Homo sapiens: one gene and its partner. The protein of the gene in region 2 purifies or fractionates together with the protein of the main gene of each other region. This does not show direct contact. Each region holds a gene or a part of one and is shown on either strand. Other genes may lie near its edges.

Region 1 (4,443 bases), on a different chromosome or scaffold from region 2:
TCACCAAACACCAGATCTGCCAGAGCCTGGATCATGGACTTCCCAGCCTCCAGAACCGTAAGGTGAACCTTCCTTTTGCTTATAAGCCAACCAGCCTGCAGTGTTTTGTTATGGCAACCTGATGAATGAAGACAACTGTCTTTTTTCCAGTCACTCGGAACTGTTTGCTGCCGTAGAAACCGTACCCTGCTTTCCCACACCTGCCCTCTCTCTCAACACCGTAAGCCCCCAGCCTGGCTGCCCCTTTCCTTCTCTCACTCTCTCACTGCCCATCCTCCGGAAGCTGGCTGAGCGGGGACACCCACCCGTGCCCCGCTGGTGAACAGGTTCGTCCCCTTGTGCTTTGGATACTCTGCAAGTTTCCTTGTCAGAGCCCATGACCCCCTCCCCGACATCTGCACTTGTTTCCGGACTGTCCCACAGCCAGACCTCAAGTCCCTGTGACCAGGACCTGGGTCTTCACCACCACTGCGGCCCTGTGGGCAGTCAGTCCTTCATGGCCAAACCATGACTAGGAAGGTGGTCCTGGTCATGGTAATGTCAACGGATCAAGAAAGCTGAAACTCATTGTTGCCTGTGGAAGGGCCAAGCCTCCTGTTTCCCTTAATTTTGCCCCACGTCAAGTGTCTTCTATCCAGGCTAAACTCACACATCACAGGGTGGCCACCTTCCTACAACCACTGTGGGTGGTCCTTCTGCAGGAGGCACTGAACGATAAACCCAAAAGGGACTCAGAAGTCAGGTGACTCAACCACTTCATTGCACAGACTTGGCCACTAGCTTCCAACCACCCAGCAAGTGTGTGAACAGACCCGAAAACGGGGTTTTGGCAATGCCCAGTGCAGAGCAACATGGGGGCCTAGAAAGAGGGTCTCCACATTTCTGCTCTATTTCCCTTGATTTACCTTCATCATGTTTTTTTCCAAGGAAACTGTGTCTCTCTCCACTGTCACCTGCACACACTTTTTCTCAGACTGCATTCATGATTTGGCTCATACCAGTCTTCAGTGCAGAATTCCTTTAATTTCTTCTCTATGCGCCCAGGTCCCACCATTCCTTAAAGGAGGCTTAGATTGCACATTTCTAAGAAACATCCCCCCAGCCTCCAGCTCTGAGGCCCTCTGTCCCCTCGCTCCTGGGACACAGACTCTCTGGCATTGTTCTGCCCCACAGACATTGACTGACTCTTAGGCACTAGTGCTCCAAGTAGCTTACAAGAAATTTCAGTTGACAAATATTTGTAGGCAATCCTACATCCTACTTAATACCTTGTGCTAAACTGGCATTCCCCAAACATTTGTTCCTTGTTTTATTTTTTTTTTCCTCATCCCATTTATCCACCTACCATACATCAATCTTTGCTCATGAAGGAGTCTCAAACAGACAGTGGTGGCATTATGATGTAGCTGTGGCAACAGTATTTGGAAGATAGTTGAAAAGAGATGAGAGGAGGCAAGCGCCAAGAAGAAGCTGGCGAGGAAGCAGGAGGAAGCACCTGGAAGCCGAGTTTCCTTACCCATGAGAACAGGCAGCATGAGAGGAGCTTGGGAGGACACACTGCACCATATCAAGGTGTCGGCCTTCCTTTTCCTCCTCCTCTTCCTCCTTGGGCATGTTATGGAGAAACCCCAGGGACAGTGACTCCACCCGATGACAGTTCTCAATGCAAAAGGAAGAAACCATGTGGTCCATTCTGGTGGAGAGATTGATCTCAATCTTGGGGAAATAGTCCATGGCCCTTTGCACGAAGTCCTCCTCCTGCATCTCGTACAAACAGTAGAACAATTCCAGCTGGCTGGGCTGGATCTGCAGCTTTTTAGCTTTGGCTTTCACTTCAATCCATTTCAGCAGCTCCAGCCTGATTTGCTGAGAGATCTTGCAACTTAATTTCTTCTCCAAGTAGGAGGTCCTCTCCTGGTTTACCAGGCCAAAGAGGAAACGTACAACAAAAATCAAATACCCCTTTTCGAATTTGCCATAGTTTTCCAGAAGGACTGTCACGTCTCGGCTGGGAAGCTTCAAACGACTCCCTGGAACGTTCGTCCTTCCTTCCTTTTCCTCTTCCAGCAGGTAGTACATGGCGGCAAAGAACTCCTGGAAAGTCATGTGGATGAAGCTGTAGAACTTCTCGCAGTCCACTTCCTTTTGGAACAGGTTCATCCTCAGGAAAGCAGACACATCCGCCTTCTGCAGTCCATGATTCCTGAGGTCGGACTCCTCAAACAGGATTTTCTGGTTCCAGATTCCATCTGCAGCCAAAGAGCAGAGCCCCCAGAGGTGGGCGCAGAGGCCGTGCTCCTGGCTCCCTCCCCGGGGCTGCAGCAAACTGGAAAGGAAGAAGACGTACACCGCGGTGGTGGTCTTGGATGTCTGGGCAAGGCTCTTGCCACTCTCCATCTGCTGTTTCAGTCCAGTGCACACGATCCAGCAGACCAGGGGGATGAAGCACATGGTGAAGAGGACCTCGTTCTCCTGAATCAGACTGAAGGCTGCCCTGGCTTGGGCCTCATCAGAGAAGTACTTGAAGAAGTACTCTTTCCTTTTGGCCTCGGAGAAACCCAGGATCTCCACATGCCGAGGATGGTCCAGCAAGTGCTGCAGTTTCTCCAGGGCCACAGGTCTCGTGGTGATGAGCAGAGAGGCCTCGGGAAGCAGCTTCTTTCTGATGAGGCTGCTCAGGAGAATGTCTCCCCGCTCGGCCTTCTGCCAGTCAGTGCAGAGCGGTCCTATGTGCTCGTCAAAGGCACCTTGCAGCTCATCGAAGCCGTCCATGAGGAAGAGGATTCTGGAGGGTTTTCTCACGATCTTGTGGATGGGTGGGTTTGGGTCGGGGCAGCAGCTCATGATCAGGTCCCCCAGGCTCCTCTGTGTCACAAGGCTCACCTCTCGACAGTGGATATAGAACAGATAGTCAAACCTGTCTTGGTAGAGTGTCCCCGACGCCCAGTCCAACATCATCTTCCTGGCCAGGATTGTTTTCCCAATCCCTGCCGCCCCCTGGAACACCACGGTGTGCACAGGCTCAGAATGCTCATCATCGGGGTCAAACAGCAACTCCATCTTAATGGGACTCACGGGGCTCTCACACGTCTTGGTCTTGCCGATGGCCAGAAGCTCCTGCTCCCTCTCCTGCTGGCTCCGGTGCTCCTTGATGAGACGCAGTCGTGTGTAGCGTTTGTTGAGGCTCACACTCTCACCCAGACGGGCATTCCTGTCTTCAATGCACTGGAATCTGCTTCTCACGTACTTTCTGTACTTCTTACGGTAATCTACGGCAAAGACAGGAAGTTAGGGGGAAAGTATACACACATCCACCTGAGATGCGCTCTCAGCTGGGGCCTGTCATCGGAAGCGAGTGGTAACCGGAATGGAGAAATGGAAGGTGCAGCTCCTCCCCACTGGGTAGGAAAGGTGCCGAGAATCTCTGGTGTCAAGTTTTTAAGATACACAGCTGAGCAGAAGGCCCATCTCTATGTGTAGCTACCAGCCCAAAGATCATTTGAATCAATCTTATTCCTTTAAGTAATCTGCATCCTATGCCTTATCAAACTTGAAACGCTTAATCACCGCCGCTGGCTCTGGGACTGCAAGAGCCACACAAACATGAATTTGTTTCTTCAACTGACAATGGATTTCCTGAGACAGGCCTTTGCATTCCAAAGAGCAGGAACCTATAGTATGGCCAAGTTACCCAGCTGCTCAGCTTCCCAGAGCCTCCTGAACCAGGTCTTAAAACTCAACTAGAAGCACCACCCCAGTCGCTTACCTTTCTTCATTTTACAAATAGAGATTCTCGAAAGGTACTCCAGTAAACCCATCCACTCCTCTTCAATGCTGTCTTCCTGGCATATCACAGTGGGATTCGAAACACGTGCATTATCTGAACCTAAAAGGGAAAAAAAAGGTGTCAAAACCCAGAACTATTATCACAGAGGATGCAATTGAAACCTGGCCTAATATTTGGCATGAGAGAGGAGACCCCAAACATCCCCCAAATCAAAACATGGCTCTGAGTTGCAGAGGACAGGTATCCAGTCAAAAGTCTGGTTGGGAGCATTTCTGCACTCCTAGTTTCAAAACAACTTCTGCTGTCCACCTGCCAAGCATGTGTTCCCACTGTCCCCAGTCTCAGAATCTCTTCCTCAGGCCTGGAAATCAATCAGCAAACATGCGAAGCAGGCTAAGTTTCTTTTACCCTCGTTTGCTTTTGCCTGCCCCTGGCAGCCTGATTGTGAGGGCATCTCCAAGCTCTCCTATATCCCCAACACGGCTGTGGGCTAAGAAAGGTCACCCTTCCCTGACCGCAGTTCCCTGCAATCCATTTTACACACGTCTTCTATTGTCAAGTCTAGATGTCTGGTTCTTCAAGAGTGAGAACGACCAGTCTATTTCGTGCCTAATCTAGTGGTTGGGAATCCTGGCTGACTTTAGAATCACCCAGGA
Region 2 (5,387 bases):
CCTGTGCCTATCTCCCATGCCCTCACGGCTGGGCACCCACCTTCCGGCCTTTCTCGTTGTTGGGTAGATAGCAGTGGCGAGGGAATCCTCTTGCGGTGAACTTCTTCCCGGGGTTGGGGTGCTCAGGGCCCTGCAGAGAGGGACAGTACAGGGATTTAGACCATGAACAGGTGGTGGCAGGGTGGAGAAGCATCTGGAGGAGTTGGAGGGGTGTGGGGGCTGGGGGCCAGAGAGGCGGAAGGGGAGCCCACCTGGATGCCTGTGGGGATGTCATAGACGATGCGGATGGTCTGGGTATCAGGGAAGCCGGGCAGCGAGTGGGGGATGAGGTGGAACTCCATCTTCCCAGGCGGCTGCGTACCCGTCTTCTCCCCGTAGATGGCCTTGCAGGTGGGGCACTGCAGGCTGCCATCCTGGGCAGGGGAGGCTGGCAGTGAGTTCCCAGCACCCCCCCAAACCCCACTCCGTTCCCTGCCCACTCCTCAGCCATTGTCCCGCCCAACCCACCTTGTTGCCATTGGAGTACATGGCCACGAGGCACAGCAGGTGGTACATGTGGCCACAGCGGCCCAGGCGGCCCACGAGCTCAGGCCGCACGCCCTTGTGCCGAAGCACGCCCTCGTAGCCTGATGCTGTGACCAGTCGCTCCATGCAGATGGTGCAGTCCTGCAGGTGGCAGCAGGGGAGACTGAGGACTGGGGAGGGCAGGGCACCTACTGGGTCAGCACTGCCCCTTGGTGGGTCACCATAGGCAGCAGACCACACTCTCTCTGGTACCCATTTGGCAAAGGGAGACAGGACACACCCTCTGCCCCATACATTGTTTTATTTTCTTTTCTTCTTCTTCGTTATTTTATTTATTTTATTTATTTATTTTTATTAAGAGACAGGCTCTGTTGCCCAGGCTGAAGTGCAGCAGTGCAATCATAGCTCACTGCAGAGTCAAACTCCTGGGCTCAAGAGATCCTCCTGCCTCAGCCTCCTACGTAGCTGGAACTACAGGGATGAGCCACTGCACCCAGCCCCTTCCCATATATTGAATTCTGATATATCACAGAGGAAGATGGCTCCCCTCACCACCCCCCAGGTGAATTAAGGGCTTAACTATCAAAAGCAAAACTTAAAAACATTTAGTGGAAAATATGGGTGAAAATGACACAAAAACTCAATCATCAAAAGATGGATAAATGTGAGTCTATTAAACGTAAGTATTTCTATTCATCAAAAAACCTCATAAAGTGAAGAAAGGAACAAACTAGAAGAGCTCTGTATCACCCAGAACCCAGGAGGAGGGGTGAGGGTTCCTGCCCCCTCCATGCCAGGGCCCTCCCCCAGCCCCCCCATCCCCTCCTCACCTCATCAGGTGGGTTTTTCACCTTCTGCATGTATCTTCGAACCACATCCTCGGGATTCTTACCTGCAGGGACACAGCGGGGTGGGTTTGAGGGTACCCAGAGTCTGTCCCCGAAGGCTTGGCTCAGAACTGGGTCAGGGGTCAGAGGGCAGGGGTCAGGCTGGCAAGGGTTGGCCGGGGTCAGGCTGGCAAGGGTTGGCCAGGGTCAGAGGTCAGGGGTTGCTGGAGGTTAGCTGTAACAGGAGCTGGTGAAAGATGGGGCCAGGGCAAGGGGAGCTGAGATCAGGCAATGGAGGTGAGGTAGTAAATGCTAAGAATAAGTTGGAGACCAGGGGTCACAGAGTTGTGGTCAAGGCTTAGTGGGGTTCATCTCGTGTGAGGCAGGGCGTGGAGGGCGTACTCTTTTTAAGGTGCTTCTTCTTGGTCTTGCGGCACACCCCGGGCACGCCAGGCACGGGCTTCACGTCGCTCTTGCTCACGGGCGGCGGGTGCAGGATGGGCTTGGGGGCCCGCGTCAGGCACACGGGCAGCCCGGCCGCGCACAGCAGTATCCCGGTCATCCCTGGGGGTTAGGGGGCGCAGTCACAGGGCGGGGCGCCATCCCCGCCCAAACCCCCGACCACTGGCCCTGGGAATCCCGGGGCCCTCGGGTGGGTGGGAGGGTTGCGCTCTTGGGCCCCACCCACTCAGCCCCTTGAAGGCCCCTGAAGGGCCTTTCTGCGGGCCACGCCCGCCCTGTGTCCTGGGCCCAGTGGAAGGGGGCGTTTCCTCCGGGCCACGCTCACCAGCCCATCTCGGGGGCGGGGTCACCGGGTGACAGGCGGAGCTGCCTCCTAGTGGGCCCCGCCCTTCTTTCCCGCCCTGGGCCAGACCTCACCTGCCAGGGCCGGATGGACCGGCCCAGTACCATTCAAGTTCTTCACCGGGAGTGCGGGGACCCTGCGGGGAGAAGAGAAGAGGCCGCAGCTGGACTCCAGCCCCCGAAGCGACGTCAGGGGACCTGGCTTGCCTTCTGTCTCTGGCTCCTGGGCCACACACCCTGGCCTCTTTGTACCTCTCTGCCAACTGCAGTTACCTCCAGGAAACTCTCTTTCTACTCTGACATCCTATTATGGGGCGGGGGTGGCCAGGACCTCCGCCCAGGTTCCAATGGGATGCACCCTTAGACTTTAGTGCAGACACCTCCTTACCCTACAGCCGGCTCCTCCCTCGAGAGGGCGCTTTGGCTCTGAGGGCTCCTTTCGTTGGCCGCTGTGCCTGAAACCCAACTACTAGTGGTGTAGCTATTTTAACATCTCTCAAAGCTTGTTAGATGTAGCATTATTAATTTCCATAAAACGTTCCAGGAAAGAAGGATTCAGGAATCAAGTAAGTTAGGAACACGTCACTGTCTCCCTCTCTGAAATTCACAACATATCTGAGCATATTAAAGGCTCTGACAAGCCCTGCGTAAGAACATATCATTAACAATGATAAGTCCAGGTTTTCAAAAGCATTTGGTGATGAATTTTTTTTCTCTTCTGGAATATTTACTGATGTCAGTTTCTGTGACAAGGTACTATCCTCTCTTCAAATGAAGAGCCCCTAGGAAAAGGTATCCTGACTCTCCTCTTCCTCTGGCCCTCAAAAGAGCTTTGGCTTTTGGAGTCAGCCAGAGCTGCTTTCATATCTCAGTTCAACCACTAATGAGCTGGGCGACACACAGCACATCATCTCATCTCTTGTAAGGGGTGGTCTGTAAAATGGGGACAATATGGTACCTTTTTTTTTTTTTAATCTGCTGTGAGGATTCCGTGAAATTATATGTGTCAAGGGCCAAGCACAGTTCCTGGTACCTAACAGCTACTAAAAGCACAGCCATCGGTATCATCACTGTCAGCTGTGCAATCCTGGCCGAGTAATTTCACCTCTTTGCTTCCCAGGCACTAAGTCCTGGTGTAACTTCTCTCCATCTTAGAGAGGAAACCACAAAACTGCTGCAGTGACAACCTTGAACAAGTCACTTAACTTCTTGATCCTCAGTTACCTTATCTGTAAAACAGGCATATTAACACCTCACTTATAGTCGTTGGGAGGACTGAAGGAGAGCTTGCGGTGATGTGTACAGTGTGTCTGCCTGAGTCCTCCTGACTTCAGCACCTGTTTATGCAGGGGAACTGGTGTCTTGCTGTTGATGGGCATGGAACCCAGGCTGGATACGTTCTGATGAAGAGGGGTGTTCTGAAATCCAGGGGTCAGCCTGAAGGCCTTGGGGGATGTGCCAGGAGAGGGGGCAGGAAGGGCTGGGAGCAGTGACAGCTGGAGAAGGAGCTGCAGCAGCCCCCTTGGCTCTGGCCGTGCCTGTTCAGGTCACAGCCTGTCTAATGCTGTCTGGTCACCTGTCCTTGGCAGGCACAGTTGGCACCAGAAAGCATCTTCAAGCAAATGGTGCCCTTGGCAGGCTTGGGTACTGCTGCAGTGGGTGCAGACACACAGACATACACACCCAGGGCACACACCATCCACACAGATCCACAGATCCAAATATACACACATGCATGGAGAAGACCACACAGACTTATCATACTCCCCGGGACACATTACACACACATGTTTAAGTACACAGACACACAAACACACACAACCCAGGGAGTACATCACAGATACATGCACACACAGACACACAGATACCAGGGAGCCTCCCTCCCCATCCGTCTACTTGGGGAACATACCGCACACACTAGGGAATGCACACCATGAACATATACATGGATACACACAGGCACACTTCAGGGCACGCCCCCCACAAACATACATGGATTAAGATACACACACACTCACATATTCCAGGGAATGCCTCCCCACACCTACATACAGAGACTTGTGCACACACGGGGACACACACATACACACAGAAGCACACACAGCTCTCCCCTGGGAGGATACTCCATTGGACAAGAGTCGGTGGCTCATGTAGACCAGTACCGCACCTGCTACTGCCGCCCCTCTCCCCAGCTGCACAGAGCTGGGTAAGGTGGGCAGCAAACCCAGAGGAGCATGCGCTCAGCCCTACAAGCCCCCGGCGCGCTGCAGCCTGCAGAACGGCCTGCCGTCCACACGCGGACACACGATTCCGCACCGCCTGTGGGGAAGTACTCGTGCGTACTGATTCACATCATGCATGGGGGCGCAGGAGGACACGCTGACTCACTGCACACGAGGACACATGCGCACATGCTCTGACCCACACCTCCTGACACTGACACACAGACACTCAGCCTGGGAGGCCCACACCTGCACACATGCAGAGGCACAATCACACATGCACACAGGTGCAGCGCACACACACCCACTTGGTGGCTGCTCGGCTATACAGGATAGTATCACGTGGCCAGGACTCCCATCCCAGACCCCTCTGAGGGCTGTGGAGAGGTCTGGAGCAGACATCTGGATTGAGCCCCTTGAGGAGGCGCCGGTGTGATGGAAGTCAATGAACACAGCTCCCGAGGGAGGCAGGATGGGATGGCGGGTACCCTGGGTCCCCCAGGACCTGGTCAGTGGAGGTGGGAAGAAAGCACTGTGCCTCAGTTTCCCCACCTGTAATGGGGATAGAGTCCTGTGAAAGTTAAATGTGCTAAAACATGTAAAGCTCATCATTTGGCGCAGGGATGAGAGTGGAGGTGTCTTGATTTTCTTGTCGGGCACCCTGCGGGGGGGCCCCAGGAAGAGGGGCACTGAGTATTCATTTGACCCTTCTCAGGGTCTGTCATAATCCTCCAGGGCCTTCCTCAGGGGGGCAGCTGTCACCACTCTAACTTCCTCCCTCTCTATACTTTTATAGGAATGCATAGAGGCATTTCCCTCAAGCTTTTCCTCTTTCCTGCCCATTCTTCAAGCACCTCTAGTGCAGACAACCTGGTTAAGTCTAGGTCTGCCTCACCCCTCTTTCTTCCTTTCTGCCTCACAAGAAGAAAGTATCTCTTTTTTTCTCCAGGACTACCTATAAATTGGGTGGAAAGAAAAATATTGAGCATGCATACCACCACTGGTTGGT

What was found. Proteins that work in one complex are often made in the same cells at the same time.
Region 1: the proteins of DTX1 (region 2) and NLRP3 purify together in Homo sapiens (affinity purification with western blotting; one study listed by BioGRID). This does not show direct contact.

The regions. Positions count from the first base shown.
Region 1 is NC_000001.11:247,422,673-247,427,115, reverse strand, and holds part of NLRP3 (NACHT, LRR and PYD domains-containing protein 3), read right to left. Parts: intron 3,887-4,443; coding exon 3,767-3,886; intron 3,270-3,766; coding exon 1,517-3,269; intron 1-1,516. UniProt on the Homo sapiens protein: Sensor component of the NLRP3 inflammasome, which mediates inflammasome activation in response to defects in membrane integrity, leading to secretion of inflammatory cytokines IL1B and IL18 and pyroptosis.
Region 2 is NC_000012.12:113,090,068-113,095,454, reverse strand, and holds part of DTX1 (E3 ubiquitin-protein ligase DTX1), read right to left. Parts: intron 2,294-5,387; coding exon 2,232-2,293; intron 1,917-2,231; coding exon 1,755-1,916; intron 1,418-1,754; coding exon 1,356-1,417; intron 667-1,355; coding exon 508-666; intron 414-507; coding exon 252-413; intron 131-251; coding exon 41-130; intron 1-40. UniProt on the Homo sapiens protein: Functions as a ubiquitin ligase protein in vivo, mediating ubiquitination and promoting degradation of MEKK1, suggesting that it may regulate the Notch pathway via some ubiquitin ligase activity.